Regions from separate parts of the Homo sapiens genome. Here region 2 is linked to region 1. Evidence: fine-mapped expression QTL. A gene starts in region 1. The other region holds a variant in brackets. All regions are shown on one strand. Distances are from middle to middle.

What was found. PIP is the estimated chance that this variant, and not a neighbour inherited with it, causes the effect.
Region 2: its variant is fine-mapped to the expression of EGF in whole blood (INTERVAL, PIP 0.94).

Annotation. Positions count from the first base shown.
Region 1 is chr4:109,911,482-109,914,401 of GRCh38, forward strand. EGF (epidermal growth factor) reads left to right here and starts at 1,402. Exons shown (of 24, transcript NM_001963.6): 1 at 1,402-1,981. The coding sequence starts at 1,855.
Region 2 is chr4:109,991,779-109,994,698 of GRCh38, forward strand. It overlaps EGF (epidermal growth factor), which reads left to right. Exons shown (of 24, transcript NM_001963.6): 19 at 1,469-1,591. It also overlaps the pseudogene RNU6-35P. Among named protein-coding and RNA genes, the nearest start is that of EGF, 80 kb to the left of the region's middle. RefSeq lists an enhancer at 2,720-2,920. The variant A/T (reference allele first, on the strand shown) is at 1,493.

The DNA.
Region 1 (2,920 bases):
GTCCTCTAAGCCCCTTCCATTGCTGTCATCTGGGATGCTGGCAATGTATTGTGCTGAAAGGGAAGCTTATTAATAAAGTTAGTAACTCGAAGAGTCAGTGCAGGTTATTTGTAGGATGCTCATTATGAGTCTTGAGTCTGACTCAGTCCAGAAAGCAATGGAATATTCCGCATAACCACCTAAAGGACTTCTCTTTCCCCCTTCCCCAGGGTCTGTTTCTCCTGTAAGGGTTCAGAGCTGCCTGGCAGAGGCTGGCTGAAATAGGAGAAATCCTGACTTAAGCTGTTTCAGGAAAGTGATCCAGTCTTTGGAGAATAATCAGGACATAATTAAGTATGAGTAAAAGGCTTAGAGTTAGTCTGTTCTCCTCTGTAATGGGGTGTTCACTAGTGTGACAGTTGTTTTTGTGACTATTGCTTTTACGTACATTTTTGACCAGCACTTGGAACACTACCTCAGGGTAACTTAAATGAAAGTCCATTTTCCAGGATGGAGTAAACTGACAGAAATTTCCATCGTGCATCAAATCTGCTATAAGTTGTTTGCCTTCTGGGTATTTTTGGGCCCTAGTTGTACTCCTGAAGAAATAACCACTGTTGCTCCAAGTAGAAAGTGGTTGAGGAGACAGCTAACAGATACGTCCAGTTCTTATTTTCTATCACAGAGATGTGAAAAAAAAAAAGCCTAAATTATCTTAGAAGGAAAAGCATTCCTCTGTGCTGGATTTCCAGTGCTTCCCAGCTTTGCACTGTTAGCTTATTTTTTCCAATGTCCCTATAATAACAATCCACTCCTTTCTCTGCACTCCTGGCCCCTCGTGATGTTTTATCATGCTCATGCTGAAAGAAAAGGTGTCTGTCCATACTGTATCTCTTCATTTGGCCTCAGGGATTTCCCTTTGATTTGGAAAGAATAATCTTTCAAATTCCGCTATAAACTATACAGGAGAAAGAGAAAAATAAGATAAAGCTCCTGGAATGTGCACTGGTATTGACATTTCGTTCAAATAATGGGCTGAAGGTGAACTATCTTTACTATTGCTCATGTGAATGATCAATTATTATCAATCCAAACTATCAACAGTGCTGCTTATTATTGATTTATACTGCATGGTTTAATTTTGTCTCCATCCTTCCAGACATTAAAACATAGCCAATATTTAGCAGTTCCCGCCATTCACCATGAGCACCTCCACAGCCCCCAACTCCTCTCTCCCAGTTCTGCCCAGGATATTTATGGTGAGTAGCGAGTTATCTCCTCTTTGGCAGTCATCCCTGCTTTCCTGTGTGGAGGAATTGCCCACATTCGCATTTGCAAACAGAGGCTCACTCAAGTGTCACTAAAGGAAAGGAGGTGGAGCCTGAAGAGCTTTAAAAAGCAAAGCTGAGTCATTCCACTTTTCAAAAAGAGAAACTGTTGGGAGAGGAATCGTATCTCCATATTTCTTCTTTCAGCCCCAATCCAAGGGTTGTAGCTGGAACTTTCCATCAGTTCTTCCTTTCTTTTTCCTCTCTAAGCCTTTGCCTTGCTCTGTCACAGTGAAGTCAGCCAGAGCAGGGCTGTTAAACTCTGTGAAATTTGTCATAAGGGTGTCAGGTATTTCTTACTGGCTTCCAAAGAAACATAGATAAAGAAATCTTTCCTGTGGCTTCCCTTGGCAGGCTGCATTCAGAAGGTCTCTCAGTTGAAGAAAGAGCTTGGAGGACAACAGCACAACAGGAGAGTAAAAGATGCCCCAGGGCTGAGGCCTCCGCTCAGGCAGCCGCATCTGGGGTCAATCATACTCACCTTGCCCGGGCCATGCTCCAGCAAAATCAAGCTGTTTTCTTTTGAAAGTTCAAACTCATCAAGATTATGCTGCTCACTCTTATCATTCTGTTGCCAGTAGTTTCAAAATTTAGTTTTGTTAGTCTCTCAGCACCGCAGCACTGGAGCTGTCCTGAAGGTACTCTCGCAGGAAATGGGAATTCTACTTGTGTGGGTAAGTACTCCAATGAAAAGGTGCTCCAGGTCTCCGGGAAACTGCCCCCACATCCCTGTTGGTTCAATCTGGTATACTTGGGCATTTAACAAAGTTTGTCTTTGGGTATGTATAGTTGCTTAATTTTTGTTTTCTGATGCATGTTTATTTTCTTACTGGCCATTAGAGCTAATCTGCTACCAACTATAAAACTTCATAACTCTCAAACTGTACTTCTGTGTATAAGTGAATGAATATGCCTCATTTTAAACTAGCAGAACATTTCATGGAAGCTTCAGCTTTTACTCTGACAAGAGGAGTAATTAACACCTGGCTAATTGCTTGGAAATTAGGGAAACAGATGGTTGATTTTTTGTTTGTCTGTTTGAAACTCTTAAGCCACAAAGAAAAAAATCCTTCCTTCTGATAACTTGTAAGAATTCAGAAGTTCTAAAAATTAGTGAAAAATGGAAAGGGAACTGTGAACAAAGGTAGTTGTGAAAATTAACCTAAATTTCAATTTCAACCTCCTTCACTTTCTCCCCACTCTTACTGTTTCTGAGGCTCTGACACAACTCCGGAGTTTTAGTAACAGGTGCATTGCAACTTTAAGAACTGCCAAATATGATAATGGGTAAATAAGCCACACTGTCCTCTCATATTAAATGAATTTTTTGCCAAGGGGAAATGGGAGCTTGACTGAATGCGAATTACAATCCTGCCAAAGGATATTGCCTGAAAAACATTCTCTCTCTAACTGTTAATTCATTTATTTAATCCTTGGGTGAGCCTCCAACCTGCTGCTTAGACACGGCAGCCGCCTTTGTTGATGAGAGGTTATAGCTGCCCCGACATTCCATTTTTATCAGCTTGCCCTTTTGAGATGGCGTCTGGCTTTTAAAAAGAGGTAGATTGAGGGGGAAAACACAGTACAGTTTCCAGAAGAGACACCTATGGAAG
Region 2 (2,920 bases), 80 kb after region 1:
GTTTATTAATCTCCAACTTTGGGAAGTCTCCTTTCCTTCAAAGCAGGAAGAAAGCTTCCAGCCTCTCTCAGGAGCTTAGAACACCTGCATGGGGCTGGGTGTGGTGGCTCATGCCTGTAATCCCAACACTCTGGGAGGCCAAGGCAGGAGGATCACTTGAGGCCAGGAGTTTGAGACAGCCTGGGCAACATAGCGAAACACTGTTCTCCACAAAAAAAAAATTAAAAACAAACAAGCAAACAAGAACTAACCAATCATAGTGATGCAAGCCTGTGGTCCAAGCTACTTGGTGGGTTGAGCTGGAAGAATTGCTTGACCCTAGGAGGTCAAGGCTACAATGAGCCATGATCACACCACTGTACCTCATCCTTAGCAACCAAGCAAGATTCTTTAAAAAAAAAAAAAAAAAAAAAAAAAAAAAAGACAGAGAGAGAAAGAACGGAAACAAAAAAGGAAAACAACACGTGCATGGGCATGCGTTGTAGGACCTAGTTCATCTCTCCAACATTCATGAAAGTCCCCTTAAACCTAAAAATGTATAGGGCTGTGCTCGCTTTGGCAGCACATATACTAAAATTGGAATGATACAGAGAAGATTAGCATGGCCCCTGCGCAAGGAGGACATGCAAATTCGTGAAGCGTTCCATATTTTTAAAGTCAGGAAACAACAGGTGCTGGAGAGGATATGGACAAATAGGAACACTTTTACACTGTTGGTGGGACTGTAAACTAGTTCAACCCCTGTGGAAGATAGTGTGGTGATTCCTTCAGGGATCTAGAACTAGAAATACCATTTGACCCAGCCATCCCATTACTGGGTATATACCCAAAGGAATATAAATCATGCTTCTATAAAGACACATGCACACGTATGTTTATTGCAGCACTATTCACAATAGCAAAGACTTGGAACCAACCCAAATGTCCAACAATGATAGACTGGATTAAGAAAATGTGGCACATATACACCATGGAATACTATGCAACCATAAAAAATGATGAGTTCATGTCCTTTGTAGGGACATGGATGAAGCTGGAAGCCATCATTCTCAGCAAACTATCACAAGGACAAAAAACCAAACACTGCATGTTCTTACTCATAGGTGGGAATTGAACAATGAGAACACTTGGACACAGGGTGGGGAACATCACACACAGGGGCCTGTTGTGGGGTGGGGGGAGGGGGGAGGGATAGCATTAGGAGATACACCTAAAATAAATGACGAGTTAATGGGTGCAGCACACCAACATGGCACATGTATACATATGTAACAAACCTGCACCTTGTGCATGTGAACCCTAGAACTTTAAGTATAATAAAAAATATATATTAAAAAAATATATAGGTCTCTGAGAACATATAGCATGACAGAAGCTGATGAAGCTCCTCTTCCAAAGGCTGTCCAACTATAAAACCCTCTTTTTCTGTACCCCACTTTTCTCTCCCGTACTCTGTCTTTTCTGACAGATATTGATGAGTGCCAACTGGGGG[A/T]GCACAGCTGTGGAGAGAATGCCAGCTGCACAAATACAGAGGGAGGCTATACCTGCATGTGTGCTGGACGCCTGTCTGAACCAGGACTGATTTGCCCTGGTAGGTTGGTGGGTGGTCTACAGTGAAGGGGAGGGACTTGGCTCGGGGATATTCTATACCCTAATCTCTATTTGCATTAGAGATTCTAAAAATCATTCAGTTCAGGCAGGCTGCAGAGCTGGCTTTCCTGATTAGGACGATGCTGGGCTTGAGAATTTGAAATGGTCCAAGTTTTCTTAATTTAATAGCATCTGGAATAAATCCTTTTTTATTACTCACAATCCAATAAAGATGGGAACATGGGTATCTCTCTTCAACTGTGCAACTAATCTCACTATTTGTAATGTCAATTTGTGGGGCTGCTGGATAAGTTTTGCAGGGCTAGGCAGGTCGGTGAGAATGTCTGGACTCAGCATTTTAAATCACTTTCAAGGATTTTAAAATATTACTTTAAAAAGGCAGTATTTCTTGTTCTGAATTAGAACTCCAGCTCTCTTCTCTTTCTTTTCTCAATATTCATAATGGTTGACTCCTGCTTCCTGAATCTTCTTCCCATAACAGCAGTAACATCTCACCATCAGCACCCCAGAAGGGGAGCTGGCTTCACCTAGACCCTGGAGACCAGGATGGGGGTCTTTCCCATCACTGCCCACTTTTTGCCTGTCAGCCCTATAAGCAGAAAACATCCTAAGAAGAAAAATTCTGTGCTTACTTGGTCTCTGTTTTTTTTTTTTTAGCATATTATTTTTCTCAAATAATTTGCTCTTCTTAAAGGTACTGAAAAACTGCTTATATTTATGTAGTCAGCTGCACATGTTTACCTTTTAAGGAGCAGTGAACCATTCAATAAAAGAGACTTTACTATTATATTTTGGCATGCCCTCTGTTACGGGAACATTTTCTTCCTGCCAGAGTTGCTACAGTCTTGTCCTTGAGGGCTCCTCTGAAGGTTAGTTTTTAGAAGAAAGCACTGTGAGAAAAAATTTTCGAGACTCCAGGATATTGGAGGTAACGGACTGCACATTGATGGGTAGGTTTTAAACCATAGAGTTACCAGTTGTTCAGTGAGACCTTGAAGCTAACTGTCACTTCACATGGTTAGTGTATGTTTGTGTGTGACAGGTTTGTTTTTATGAGATCAGTGACTCTGAATTCACATGGCGACTTAGGACTGGGTGTTCTTTTACCTGCCTCCAATATGCTTTATGTATCAGATAATACTGAGCCCAAAGGAAGAACGGCTGGTTTCATAGTGAATGACTAAGGTCTAGCTAGGAAAGTGAAACTATTGTCCCTTCTAGTAGTTCTTCTGTCACTAAAAGATTTATGTCACAAACTATTCACAGAAACTAGTTCCTCATATTGATACTTGAAAGACACTAATCCATT